4 linked regions of the Homo sapiens genome follow. The protein of the gene in region 1 purifies or fractionates together with the protein of each later gene. This does not show direct contact. Each region holds a gene or a part of one and is shown in the gene's direction. Other genes may lie near its edges. The genes, in order: MIS18BP1, ING5, BRD1 and KAT7.

Region 1 (3,589 bases):
CTTTCCATGAACCCTGGTCTATTAAGTTTTAGGAACTTAGAGATGAATAAGGCATGATTCCCCCCACCCCCACCCCCAGGGATCTTGGTTTAGGGGCAAATATTAATATATTCTGTTATGATTGCATCATTTTTCTAGTGTAATTCATTAGATCTTTTCTTAATGAAACTGTTAGACACTATCTTCATATCACGTAAGTTATTTTGAGTGGTGGTTGGGGCTGTTATTAATTTTATTATTATCATTGCACTTTGCATGAAAAAAACAAAACCACATCTAACATTATATAGCTAAGGTTATGTAAAGGTACCAACCCATGTTAATTTAAGATAATGTAATTTTATGTATGTGTTTTAATGATTTGCCTAAAAAGTACTTGTGTATCATAGTATTGCTCTTAAAGCACTTTATCTCTGTTATTACACTTACCAGAGTATATGATAAATGACCTATCATAATAGAAGCTTCCTTCATTATATGGTAATATTTTCAAGAGCAAGGACTAGTCAGTACATCTTTAAAGAATAGCTTCTAGAAAAATAACAAAATGTTTTTATACTTTTTATGAATCTGTTTTAACTTACCTAGAATTCCAGCTTAGTAACTGTTTGTTGAGCATATATTATATACTGTATAATTTAGTTTTGCTCAAAATTTTAATTACAGAAATTTAGTTATACATTGGAGTACATAAACTAGTTGAAACATAATTCTACATACATGAAGAAATAGAAGAAGAACAGTTATTAGCTTTCTATTTAGTTGATGTGCAGTTAGGATGAACAGGAATTTTTATTTACAAAATGGATTAACCTTACTATTCTGTCTTTAGATGTGACAAAGGAGATCCAAAACAGATGGTCGTGAATAATATGGCTGTCTAGGCTTTTTAAATTTTTTTTGAAGGAAAAAAAGTGATTCAAACAAAATGTAGCGTAGCGCTATACAGAGTGATTCTTTCCAAATAAAATTGCTTTATATCCTAGTCAAATTATAACAAATATTTATGACAGAGGGATTAGACAGATTATCATTATTATTTCTGAGACAGGGTGTTGCTCTGTCACCCAGGCTGGAGTACAGTGGCACAATCACGGCTCACTGCAGCCTCGACCTCCCTGGCTCAAGTGATCCTCCCACCTCAGGCTCCCAAGTATCTGGGACCATAGGCTTGCACCAACCTTTTATTCTTTGTAGAATCAGTGTATCACTATTTTGCCTAGGCTAGTCTTGAACTCCTGGGCTCAAGCAATCCTCCTCCCTCGGCCTCCCAGAGTGCTGGGATTACAGGCGTGAGCCACCACACCTAGCGTCAAAGTTAATTCTTCATGTAGAAAAGCAGCTTCTCTTTTATATAACCATTTATTGAAATCTCCATCTTTGTATTCATAGAACTGAAGAGTAATAAGCACAGTGAGTCACCAGGAGCTACAGAATTAAACATGTGCCACAGTAATTGCCAAAATAAACCAACATTAAGGTTCCCAGATGACCAAGTAAATAATACTATTCAAAATGGAGGAGGAGATGACTTATCTAATCAGGTAAGGCTTTATTGTACACTGTATAGTTCAAGTTGATATTTAGAAGGGTGATTTACTACTGAAAAGGTTTGGGACCATATCAGGGACGTGAGTTCTGTTTTTTTTTTTTTTTTCTTTTGAGATGGAGTCTCCCTCTATTGCCCAGGCTGGAGTGCAGTGGCGTGATCTCGGCTTATTGCACCCTCTGCCTCCTGGGTTCAAGTGATTCTCCTGCCTCAACCTCCACCTCCTGGGTTCGAGTGATTCTCCTGCCTCAGCTTCCCGAGTAGCTGGGACTACAGGCATGCACCACCACGCCTGGCTAATTTTTGTATTTTTAGTAGTAACGGGGTTTCACCATATTGGCCAGGCTGGTCTCGAACTCCTGACCTTGTGATTCACCCACCTCTGCCTCCCAAAGTGCTGGGATTACAGTCGTGAGCCACTGCGCCCAGCCAAGAGTTCTGTTTTTCAAGTATCAGCTTTTCATTTACTTGGGGACTGAATGTCTTGATATTTATTTTCCCTGTCTCTCAATGAAAAAATGCAGGCAACAATAAAAGTTTTAGCTTTTAGAGTAAAGCTTAAATAAAGCATATTTTTAAAAGCACTTGAAAAACCACAAAGTATTAAATTAATGTAGAAAATATGTAGGATAATGGATTCCCAGATGTTGCTCGTAGTGCTCAAGGTCTGGCAAGTAAGTTTCGGAATGTGTCCACTAATGAAATTTGCGGAACTGTAAGTACCTAGAAATTTGTATGCTTGATGCATACTATGAAAATGCTTCAGATCATGTTTTGGTAGTAGTTTTAAAATAAAACCTAGGTATCTTTTTGTTTTGAAGGAATTAATTGGAAAAAAAGAATATAAAATGTCTTCAAAGAAACTAAAAATTGGTGAAAGAACAAATGAAAGGATAATAAAAAGTCAGAAGCAAGGTAATATATCTTTAATGGTTTTTTAATCATAAGCAGAAAGCTACTATGTGAAATGTTTTTAATATGATAAAAGTGATCTTGTAAATTTCCTCATGTAAAATGGCAAATTATTTAATGTTTTTAAATGTTTGGTTTTGTTATTTTTACATAAGATGATTTTCATAATAAAATAGCCCTTTTAAAAACCACCTATACTTACAGGTTTGCCTTCTTTAATCTGGGTACTAAAATATTTGTTTAGATCACAAAACTATATATCATTTAACATATGCTTACAGGAATGTGTAAAGAGTGAATCCTTTTATGAATTTAGTACAATAATTTAGTTTTAAGTGTGGATTTTCAGAGTGATTTAATTGGAATCCTGCATGCCATAATTTAGAGGCTTTCGTCTAAATGTTAGCAAGTTTACAATTTCATGTTGAGCTAAATCCATTAGCTTTATAGCATTTTTTTGTGTTTTATTTCCTCTTATAAGTGAAAAGAAGTGAAAGTGAAGAACATTTATTTGTTTGAAGAAGATAGGAAAGCAGTGCTACTTATACTTCCGAGTTCATATTCGGTTTAAGTATCCAAGATAGCTGGATCTTTATTAAATAATTTATTAAAATTAACAAATACTCTGAATGGAAATATTGTTCAAAATTATAATGTTGAAAATTTTCAAATTCCCAGGTAAACATTTGAATTGGATTTATATGAGGAGTTAGAAGAAAATACTTTTCTCATAATTTGAAGATATATGATGCCAGTGGAAAATCTTGTAGACACTTTCTAAATTATTTTGATTATTACCTTTTTCCACGGATTGTAATTTAGAGGCTTCTTTTCTCCCCAGCATTCAATATTATCTATCAGTCTCATTCTGTCAGTCATCTTGTAAACAATGGCACATAATATGTGGAGGTGGTTGTAATATGTTTCTATGACAGTGGGATGATTTGCAGTTTATATGTATTTCTAATTACAGTTGGATAGTTTCAGTTAGTTTGACTTCTCATTACTTAGGTTTTGAATTGGTGAATTGTTCTCATTTTAATTTGCTTTCTTTAGTGACAAGATATAAGATTCTCAGGTTGTTCTCTTTTGCTTGTTTTGTACTTCATGGTGTTTGGGGGGATTCAT
Region 2 (3,589 bases), on another chromosome or scaffold:
GGCTGGGGGCCTGGGGCGGGGCAGGGTCTCAGCTTCAGCTCCACCGAGGCCCCTTGAGGACCTTGAGGTTTCCTCTCTCGCCTCCTGCCCCAGCGGCTTCCACAGTTGGTAGAAGTGCGGGGGAGGAGACCAGCGGTGCCCGAGCAGACCCCTTGCTCGAGAACTCCGAGGTTGCAGGGATTTTCCCTCTGCTTTTAGTTGCTCTGTGCAGCCTCTGGACTATAAATGTCGGTGGGGACGCGGCCGCCATGTGTGGCTGTGTGGGCTCAGCGTGGCCCAGTGGCCAGCCCAGCCCTCACTCAGTGCATGAGGCAGGCGGACGCCGCCCCCAACCCCCCAACACCCCCCACTCTGGCTGCAGGTCATCTAGCTCTTGTTGCTCCACAGCTCCCCGACATCTTTGAGAATGTGGTTTTTGTGACTTGCTGGGTTTTGTGTTTTCTAACTCAGTGGCAACAGCGTTCTGAGTCTTCCTGCTCCTTCCTGCTCGGAACCTGAAGGCCCTGTCCCGACCGTGCCTTTTCTGCGTGAAAGTGGGACTCCTCCTGGTCTCTTCCTCACCCAGTGCTGTTTCTCAAGGGTATGCTAGGCATAAGGAATGCAGGCACTGGGGGTCCTCGTGGGGGTGAAGGAGACTCCAGCTCCCTGTTGGGGTCGGGGCTTCCTCCCTGAGGGCTCTGCCCAGCTTCAGAGACCTCAGGAACAGCCAGCACCTCTGCAAACACAGGAAGATCCACTGTGGCCTCATGGCTTTTCCTGTCCTGACAGTGCGCTGACCAGCACTGTTTAGTAGCAATGCGGAGCCTGGGAGCTCAGCGCTGCCTGCCGTGCAGGTCCCAGTAGTGACAGATGAGAAGGGTGATCACCGATGGCGACAGTTGCGGGGCCCTGCGGCTCTGGATCTAGCTTGTGTGTGAATCTCTTTCTTCTCTGTGCCCCCAAGTGGCAGTGCTGCTCCTGTCCCATTGCAAGACGTCGAGACAGGCTGGTAAGGCCAGCTCTGAAGCTGGGCTCTGACGTCCAAGGCGCCAAGGAGGCCCCTTCCAGAGGGACAGGAGGATGGTGCAGGTGGGCAGACGGGTCATCCTGAGGACCAGTCGGTTGGACCCAAAGCCTGGCCTGCCGGGGCGGGAGTGTGCACTCGGGTGCCTCCAAGGGCATCATCCTGGGTGTGTGCAGGAGCCCGCCTGCCCCTGGGCTCTGGAGTTCTGTGGTGCGCGTCCCTGACCCATCAGCACAGTGGGTATTCACGCCCCTCGTGGTCACGCTGTGGTGCCAGGCCGCTCTGCCTCAAGGCAGGTCCTGTTCCCTGCTGGGGACCCAGGCGCACGCACCATCCTGTCCCTGTGGACTGCCCTCTTCAGGCCTGTTCCCCACGTGCCCGGGGCTCTTCCTGGAATGCAGTGTTCCTAGACTGCACAGATGCTCCGTGTCTCGTCTGAGATCCCGTGACCTGAGGCTGCCCCCTGCACTGTTGCTGCCCTGTGGCCTTGCTCTGGCGAGGCAGAACCTGTGTGTGTGGATGAAGGGCAGTGTCACCTGTAGCACCTGGAATCCCGGGGCTTGGACAGGCAGCCAGCCCCCTGCTAGGAGCCACGTGGAGTGCTGGGAAGCCATCGGGGCCGGGCGCGGAAGGGCTCGCTGGCACCGTCTGGCGAGGGGTGCCTGCCACACCCTGGGGAGTTAGCACAGAGGGTGCCTCTTGTGGCAGTGGTGCTGAAGGGAGTCAGCAGCCGCTGACAGTTGGGGTCACCCTGGCCTGTGCAAGGGACAGGGCTCCCCATGGCCTCCTGGTTGCCTCCCTCAGGGCTGATAGCAGCACTCCCTGGCCACACGCCATGGCGCTCCCTCAGGCGAGACTGAGAGGCCAGTGAGGCCTGCACGGTGGCCTCAGCTTCTGGGGTGCCCTTGCTGGGCGGTCCCCTCAGGCCCCCGGCCCTCTCCCACAGCCATCAAATCTGGCCAGCGCCCTCGAACCTGGTGATGCTGAGACACAGGTCAAGTGGCAGCTCAAGATGTCAGGTCGGGCTTTGTGGACAGAATTGGACTCGGCGCAGAAGAGGAGGGCGTCAGCGTTTCGGGGACGGTTGGCAGCAGAGGGTGCTGCCCTGCTCTCCGCGGGTGAGAGGTGACTCGAGGAGACCGCAGGAGCCCCTTGGAGGTGAAGCCACAGGTGGCATCCCGGAATCGGCAGGAGGCTGAGACGTAGACCCTTGCGTGCTGCTGTCAGAGGAGAGACCCGAAGACTACTTGAGACTGTTGCTTGAAAGCAGTGTCGGCAGCACCTGGACCTGGACTTGTGACGCTGATGGATTTCAGCTCTAAAGAGAAACCCCTGTCTATTCCCAGACAGAGAGAAAGAGCAGAAGAGCAGATTACCTGCAAAGGACAGACTTAGGTGGGCGCCCCTGTGCCAGAGGGCAGCGGGGAGGCCGGGTGCATGCTGAGCCCGAGTGTGTGTGTATGTGTACAGGCAATTGCAAAGGCGTAGAAAAGCTTTAGACAGGTATCCAAGGAAAAGCTGAGTGTTGATTCCCTCTGGGACCCAGACTTCTGCTCCTTGGCTTTCCCTGATCGTGACTGTTTTTCTCACGGCCACGTTCCTCCTGCTAACCTGCTGTGTTTACATACCAACTAGATATTCGTGGGTTGGAGGGTGGGATAGGGAAGATACTTTTTCTTTCTGTACTAATGGGAATACACTGTCTATAGTACCTGCAGCTTGTAAGTTTATTTGAAAAATACTGAAATATAAAAGCGTAAATTTCCCCCTAAGTGCATCCCTTTCAAACAGGAAAGTCTCCACCTGAGGTCTGTGGTCCTGGTGGGACGGCCATGGTGCTACAGGTGGCAGGCTTGGAGGGAGGCATAGACGGGGTGGAACACCTGCCAGGCTGCTGTGTAGAAACCCACGTGGGAGCTGATGGGGATGAAGGAGTGACAAGGATGGTGTGTGGTCGGAAGGGGCCCTGTGCCAGGTGGACAGCTGGGTGGGTGGTGGGCGGTCCAGGGAGTGTGTGGGGAGCTGCTGGTTGAGTCAGTATTGGGGCAGAGGTGCCTGAGTAGGTGCGTGGAGGGCCCGGGCGCAGGACGCATGGCTGTTCTCTTGGGAGGAGGTCACAGTTACGGGAGAGCTGTTGACTGTGCGGGCTGCTCTGACACCTGTCAGTCTGGAGTGGGAGGCTGGCAGGCTTCTCTCAGGTGTCAGCCGTCTGCTGGCAGAGGTGACGTGTGCTTGTTTCCAAAGGGGCCGGGGTCTTTGGAGGGATGGCCCAGAAGTGGGTTGAGTCCAGAGGTCCCCGGGGGAGTCCTGTCTGGGAGGAGGGACCGAGATGAGAGTGGACTCGTCCCCAGAGTGGGACCAGAACCCCGGTGCTGTGGGTGAGTGCTGCGCTTCACGGCCTCCTGGGGGCCCTCTGTGCCCCCATGCCCCTGCCTGGGCCCGAAGGTGGGCGCGAGGTCTCCACCCCTCTGCTGCCAGCTGCTGCTGTTCCTGGATTTTTGTGGGTAACTGTTCTTTCTAGCATCAGCTGACAATCTGTTCGTATACTTAATGATTTTCTTGCTGCGCCTTCTTAGAACATTGCGT
Region 3 (3,589 bases), on another chromosome or scaffold:
CGTGTGTGTGCTGTGCTGGGAGCACTTTGAGGAGGCCGCTGTGTTCCTGCAGCCTCTGCTCCCCGCCCCTCAGAGGAAGCTGAGGAGTTTGTCCTTTAAAGAGGAGCAGCTGTCATCGGTTTGCTTCTTCGGTACTGGCTGCGCTTCTGGAGGTGCCGGCTCAGGTTGCCAGCGACTCTTTTCTGGAAGCGTGTCTGGAGCATGTTTGTCATTTTGGTTTTTGTCCCGAGTCAAGGCTTGGTTCCCGTCTGTCCTGTCTGCCTGTTATACCTAGATAAGGAGATGCGCATTTTCTCCTGGCTGTGCTGGTGTGCCGTGGTGCCTCGTGCACTTGAGCAGTGAGAGAGGGTGGGGCTGGGTGGGTGTTGCTTATTTCCCAGAGTGGCAGCAAGTGAGTCCTGTGTCATGGAGCCTCACCAGGCCGGGTGCAGATGGAAGGCTGTGGTGGGCAAGACCTGCCCAGGCCACTCCCTCACATCTTGTCCCTGTTCCTTCTGCTGGTCTCTGGCCTGAAGCGTCCGGGGAGGGGAGTGAGACCAGGCACTGTCAAAGGTCTTTGTGCAGAAGGAGGCTCACTTCCTACCCTTGCCAGCAAGCAGGTCATGCGTCTTGTTGCCAAAGTAATTTCTGGTAAATTTCATTTTGATTTGTATGAAAATTTTGCACGTAACTGAATGTGTAGAAATTTTCTACCCATGTCCTTTTACTTTGATGGATTGATGTTAAATTGGCATTTTAAAATAATTTGAAAAAGCTTTTTTGCTTTCTAAGTAATAGGAAGCTATTGAAATGTTTCACAAGATACCAATAAGAATAGATGTCCTTGACTCAGGACTGGGGGATGTGTCTTAACCACGTTGGTCTTTCTTAGCCACCTTTGGTGAAAGACTCTGACCTGGTTTTCCAAGCACCCCGGAAATTCTGTGATGAATCGGGTCAGGGTGCTGTGCACTGGGTACTAGAGGTTGGGTCAGTGTAATTGTGGGCGTCCCCTCTGCATGCAGAACTTGGAGTTCGGCTGACGCTCCACTTCCTCGGGGTTTCACGTCTGTCGGCGGCAGAGGTATGGGGCTGCGTGCGTGGAGGCCCTGCCGGCCGTGGGGCTGGGGTTTGAGGCGGCCTCCCGTCGACACTCAGCAGGATGCTCACGTGGTGGTTTCCACCAGGTGGCCCCACCTGACCGGGCCCTGCCCCAGCTGTGGGCTCCCACTGTGGACAGTTTTGCCGGCTGGCGGCCACGTCCTCAGCAACCTCTCAGGCTCGTTCATCAGATGTCCCTTGTAGAAGAGCACGTGTCCCCTCCGGGCCACTGTCTTACATTGGAGTGGAGTGTTTTGCGGGCTTCCCGTGGTGACGGTGGTGTAGAGCAGTCTTACTGCAGACCTTCAGTGAGCGTGGCCCATGGTGGCTTTTGAGAATCATGGTGCCCTCTGATCCTGACTGAAGTGGAGATTTCTGCTCTCTCATTTCCGAGTGACAGTGGATTTCCGTGGAGGTGCGGTGAGTTCCTGAGCTCTCTCCTGAGCAGCCGGGAGCCTCAGCAGCATTAAGACCAGGCCCTCGGGAGTGGGAGGCATTCCACTGCTGTGGCCGAGGCGCCCGGGGAAGGGCTGGGCGTGCTCTGAATGGTGCCAGTCCCGCCATCCGCCCTCGCTTTGGTTTCACCGGAACCTTCTGGTGCTCTGCACATGGGGGATTTCTTGCCCAGAGCTGCAGTTCTTCGCAGTCTTAGGACAGGAATTATCCGGAACCTTCTGATGTTTTCCATACATGCATCTGTGTGCTCTGAACTTTAGGGAGTTATCTGGCATTTTCCAGCACACGCACAATTCTGAGTTAGGCTGAACAGGGTCGCTGGTCCTGAGGCGACGCACTCACTGTGGGCCTCCTGCCCGTGTCGCCCGCGGGCCGGCTGTGCTGTGCGCCAGGCTTCTGTTCCTGCGATGGCCCAGCCCCAGAGTCTGGCCCTGACTCGTGGCTTCCTTCCTCCGTGACTGCACGCTCACCAGCAGTGAACCGTCACCTGAAGCGGCCTTCCACTCGCCGCCGTTGCGGAGACCCCTGCTGCGAGTCTCTGTGTGCACGTGCTGGGGCGTGTGAGAGCGTGGGGGTGTCTTTGTCTACTCGCCGCCGTTGCGGAGACCCCTGCCGCGAGTCTCCCTGTGCACGTGCTGGGGCGTGAGAGCGCGGGGGTGTCTTTGTCCACTCACCGCCGTTGCGGAGACCCCTGCTGCGAGTCTCTGTGTGCATGTGCTGGGGCTTGAGAGTGTGGGGATGTCTTTGTCCACTCGCTGCCGTTGCGGAGACCCCTGTTGCGAGTCTCCATGTGCACGTGCTGGGGCGTGAGAGCGCGGGGGTGTCTTCAGTGTCCTTCGGCTGTTCAGGGAGGAGGCTGAGCTGTCCTGCCCTTTCATTCAGACTAAATGGCTTTTTCACTGTTTTCCAGGTTCTCACTTTAACCACTAATGTGCTGGGTAGTTCACTCTTTGGACCCTAATCATTTTCTCTTACCTCAACTTGGACTGGAGTTCTGCTAAGCGGCCGTTTTGGAATGCACAAAGATCACTGCATCTTGCCTTTCACTTAATTCTTGCGGATCACATTGGAATCATCAGCTCAAACATCCTCTAGACAAAATCACAAACAGCAGCCCTGGAGGAGCTCTCCCCCACCCCAGCCCACCCCCTCTGTAAGTCAGAGCCCGGCAGTGGGAATGGTGCTGGCGCCCGGTGCACGCCTGGAGCTGGCGGGATGTCGTGGCACCTCAGCCTTCCCTCTGGACAGTCACGAAGGACGCAGAGGAGAGCCCGGCACCGACTGGGAGCCTGCTGCAGCTGACGACACAGTGGACAGCATTCTGAGGCTGTCCTGAGCATGTGCGGAGCCGTCCCATAGTGACTGGTGGTTTGGGTGTGACGGCCATGCCCAGGCGCGTTGTGCTGTGTCTGTGCCATGGGGTATGGAGGAACTTGGCTCGGCACTGTCTGAGGATGTGGCATGGACAGTGCGTGCTCACTCACTCGCTAGCATCTTCTGTATTTCTGGGTTTTCTACCTGATTTCCTTCTCCCCTTACTTCCCCTTCCTCTGTTTTTTCCCCACAATGCCCAGTGGATTCTTGAGCAGTGCTGCTGTTTGTCTCTTGCTGGTCACCACGCTGAGTGCCCCTGCGGCCAACTGAGAAGTCCTGCTCGTGGGGTGGGGCATCTGTGCGTGGGATCTTGTGCAGGCGTCTGTCCTGGGCCTTGGGTCTGTCTCTGACCATCCCAGCTGCATTGTCATGGAGCTGGGTCCCAGCAAGAGCAGGTCTCGTGCAGGCGTCTGGCCTGGGCCTTGGTTCTGTCTCTGACCATCCCAGCTGCATTGTCACGGAGCGAGTCCCAGCACGATGGGCCTTGGGTCTGTCTCTGACCGTCCCAGCTGCATTGTCATGGAGCAGGTCCCAGCAAGATGGGCTTTGGGTCTGTCTCTGACTGTCCCCAGCGGCATTGTCACAGAGCAAGTCTTGTGCAGGCATCTGGCCTGGGCCTTGGGTCTGTCTCTGACCATCCCAGCTGCATTGTCGCGGAGCGGGTCCCAGCACGATGGGC
Region 4 (3,500 bases), on another chromosome or scaffold:
TTCCCTATTTGTAGGTTGTTCCATTTAAGTGTTCTAAATAAAGTGAAGTTGCCTGAGGGGGTGGGAGGATGAGAAATGCTTGTGGAATCCTTATTTAGGTTTGAACTTGGGGTTTTCAGTGTCACAGCTTGTTTTATTTTCAATGTTAATGCAAACTCTCAGACCAAATGCTTCTGTGCTAATATCTGGATCTATGGTATTACAGAGGAATGCAGGCAGTAGTTCAGATGGAACCGAAGATTCCGATTTTTCTACAGATCTCGAGCACACAGACAGTTCAGAAAGTGATGGCACATCCCGACGATCTGCTCGAGTCACCCGCTCCTCAGCCAGGCTAAGCCAGAGTTCTCAAGGTAAAAAAACCTTCATTTTTCCTTACCACTCCTCACATCTGGCTGACTGGCCCATCACATTATTTTCCTAGTTAATGTGGAAACTGGCCCCTTGGCTTGGTGTAGATGACAGTGCACCAGATGATTGGTAAAATGTAGAGTGAATGCAGAGTTGTCAGGTCTTTAACAATGCCTCTGTGGGGGGCTACTATCCAATCTGTAGACCCAAAGGAACTGCGGATGGTATAATGGATAGAGACACACGTATGTCTTGAGTCATTTGTTTGTTTGTTTGTTTGTTTTTTTAGATCGCAGTGTCTCCATCAGTAAAATTGGAATGTTATCCCTTCACTTTCTGTTTGAATGTTTGAGGCTTAGGGACTTGAAGTCCAGATGGTATCTGATTTATGGTGGCTTGATTTAATTTTTTTTTTTAACTTTACAGTGGTGCTAAAACAATATGCATTCAGTGGAAACTTTTAGAATTTTGAATTTCGGTCTTTTCCTGGGCCAGTGATATGTGGGCCAAATATTTTCTCATGTTGCTGAGTGGTGGCAATGAGCCATAATAACTCCAGTCAGTGAGCCGTAACTCCCAGTCAGCCATTTGATCATGAGGGTAAACCAGTACTCTTCAGTGTACTGTCTTTAATAAATTATATGCAATATTCAACACTTTATTAAAAATAGGCTTTGTGTTAGATGATTGTGCACAATTGTAGGCTAATGTAAGTGGTTTGAGCCTATTTAAAGTAGGCTAGGCTAAGCTATGATGCTCGGTAGGTTAGGTGTATAGCGGTTTTTTTTATTTTCTGGAGACAGGGTCTTGTGCTCTGTTGCACAGGTTGGAGTGCAGTGGTGTGATCTTGGCTCACTGCAGCCTTGACCTCCTTGGCTCAAGTGATCCTCCCACCTCAGCCTCCTGAGTAGCTGGGACTACAGGTGCACGCCACCATGCCTAGCTAGTTTTCTTTGTTTTTTGTAGAGATGAGGTCTTATTATGTTGTCTAGGCTGGTCTCAAACTCCTGGACTCAAGCAGTCCTTCCACCTTGGCCTCCCAAAGTACTGGGGTTATAGATGTGAGCCACCATGTTCAGCCTGTAAATGCATTTTTAACTTATAATACTTTCAACTTATGATAGTTTTATTGAGACTTAACCCCATTACAAGTCAAGGAGCATCTGTAGTCTCTTGGACTTACTCTTGGCAGAGGCCCACTTCTAAAACCATGTTTAACTCTGGAATGTAATCCAATAAACACTTGATAGATATTAATAGTTGTACCAAAATATCAGTGTGGAAATAATGGAATTTTGCTTTGGTAATAAGGAATTGAGAATCTTGGGGTTGGAAGGTAGTTTGAACTATCTCTAGTGCATTTAGGCATCTGGGGTTAGATTTGGAGGGTACCCTTGACCCTCCTGGCTCTGCTCTGGTATTCCCTGAGGAGGAAAGAAGGTTGCAGCTAATACAGAAAGCCGATGATCAACAGGTGATAATAGATGAAGGGAAAAAAACTTTAACATGTTTTGAGCACTTCAACAGTGTTGCTTTGGTTAATTTTTTTTTTTTTTTTTTTTGAGATGGAGTCTAGCTCTGTTGCCAGGCGGAGTGCAGTGGCATGATCTTGGTTCACTGCAACTTCCGCCTCCTGGGTTCAAGCAATTCTCCTGCCTCAGCCTGCAAGTAGCTGGGACTACAGGTGCACGCCACCGTGCCCAGCTAATTTTTGTATTTTTAGTAGAGATGGGGTTTCACCATGTTGGCCAGGATAGTCTCAATCTCTTGACCTCATGGTCTGCCTGCCTTGGCCTCCCAAAGTGCTTGGATTATAGGCATGAGCCACCGCGCCCTGCTGCTTTGGTCACTTTTATATGAGTATGTTGCACAATGAGAGAAAAACCATCAGTTTTTCAAGCAAGAAAGTGGGAATATCCTCTTTAACAACTGTTCCTAACTTTATTTTTGAATTTAGGATTTCAGCTAAAGTATTGCTATTGTCTCTTGATTTCTTAAGCTTTAAATTTTTACCACAATGAGACTATGGATAAATAGCTACTATAACTCAAGCAGTATGTTATGTACTAGGAACCATGATAGAAAAATCATAGTTCCTGTCCTCAAAGATCTTACAGTTCAGTGCAAGATACAGATATGAAAATTGATCATGGGAATACATTATGGCAAGGGCTGTGAGAGGGGTTTGCATAGAGTACTACATAAGCCCAGAGGTGGGACAGCCAACTTAGGGCAGCACTCCCACAATGATGAAGTCTTTTTTGTTGTTGTTGAGACAGAATCTCGCTCTGTCGCCCAGGCTGGAGTGCAGTGGCATGATCTTGGTTCACTGCAGCTTCCGCCTCCTGGGTTCAAGGAATTCTCCTGCCCCAGCCTCCCAAGTAGCTGGGATTACAGGCGAGCACCACCATACCTGGCTATTTTTTGTATTTTTAGTAGAGACAGGGTTTCACCGTGTTGTCCAGGCTTGTCTTAAACTCCTGATCTCAAGTGATCTGCCCGCCTCGGCCTCCCAAAGTGCTGGGATTACAGGCGTGAGCCGCCGTGCCCAGCTGCACACTGAGATGTCTTAAAGGCTCTGATAGGAATTTACAAGTTGAAAGATGGGAATATGTTATTCTCGGCAGATGGAACAGCATATGCTAAGGAAAAGACATAATGTTTGTAGGAAGTATAATTGACCATGCCCTAGACACCTGAAAACTAAATATTCAAAACAGCTAGGAAATGCGTAAGCACTGAGTCTCTTTCTGGTTATCATACCTCATGACCACAGAGTTGCACAACTCCAGGGGTACCATTTACAATGTCAGCAATGTAAGGTGGTCCTCCCTAGAGCACAAGGTAGATCATATTGTGAAAGGAGGCCCCTTGGAGATGTACAAATGGATAACCTTGCTCTGTGCTAACTTTTCTCACCCGAAAGTTTGGAAATTTTCAGTTTTCTTCTTTAGAGAATCTATAAGATTTCTTCAGATTTTTTTTTTTTTTAAATATACGTTGGGGGGTGCAGCCGTGAGAGAGTGAGGCTGACACCGCGCCCTGGCCTGTGCATCCCGCCCTCTGAAAAAAAAATTAATTAATTAAAATAAAATATACTTTAGAGAGGATTTTGACTGTTCTCACCACAAAGAAATGACAAGTGTTTG

What was found.
Region 2: the proteins of MIS18BP1 (region 1) and ING5 purify together in Homo sapiens (affinity purification with western blotting, with the first as the bait; one study listed by BioGRID). This does not show direct contact.
Region 3: the proteins of MIS18BP1 (region 1) and BRD1 purify together in Homo sapiens (affinity purification with western blotting, with the first as the bait; one study listed by BioGRID). This does not show direct contact.
Region 4: the proteins of MIS18BP1 (region 1) and KAT7 purify together in Homo sapiens (affinity purification with western blotting; one study listed by BioGRID). This does not show direct contact.

What each region holds. Positions count from the first base shown.
Region 1 is NC_000014.9:45,225,618-45,229,206, reverse strand, and holds part of MIS18BP1 (mis18-binding protein 1), read left to right. Parts: intron 1-1,392; coding exon 1,393-1,544; intron 1,545-2,370; coding exon 2,371-2,464; intron 2,465-3,589. UniProt on the Homo sapiens protein: Required for recruitment of CENPA to centromeres and normal chromosome segregation during mitosis.
Region 2 is NC_000002.12:241,719,033-241,722,621, forward strand, and holds part of ING5 (inhibitor of growth protein 5), read left to right. Parts: intron 1-450; coding exon of another isoform or gene 451-589; exon of another isoform or gene 590-943; coding exon of another isoform or gene 944-1,090; exon of another isoform or gene 1,091-2,775; intron 2,776-3,589. UniProt on the Homo sapiens protein: Component of the HBO1 complex, which specifically mediates acetylation of histone H3 at 'Lys-14' (H3K14ac) and, to a lower extent, acetylation of histone H4. Component of the MOZ/MORF complex which has a histone H3 acetyltransferase activity.
Region 3 is NC_000022.11:49,782,837-49,786,425, reverse strand, and holds part of BRD1 (bromodomain-containing protein 1), read left to right. Parts: intron 1-2,446; coding exon of another isoform or gene 2,447-2,497; exon of another isoform or gene 2,498-3,589. UniProt on the Homo sapiens protein: Scaffold subunit of various histone acetyltransferase (HAT) complexes, such as the MOZ/MORF and HBO1 complexes, that acts as a regulator of hematopoiesis.
Region 4 is NC_000017.11:49,791,681-49,795,180, forward strand, and holds part of KAT7 (histone acetyltransferase KAT7), read left to right. Parts: intron 1-205; coding exon 206-353; intron 354-3,500. UniProt on the Homo sapiens protein: Catalytic subunit of histone acetyltransferase HBO1 complexes, which specifically mediate acetylation of histone H3 at 'Lys-14' (H3K14ac), thereby regulating various processes, such as gene transcription, protein ubiquitination, immune regulation, stem cell pluripotent and self-renewal maintenance and embryonic development.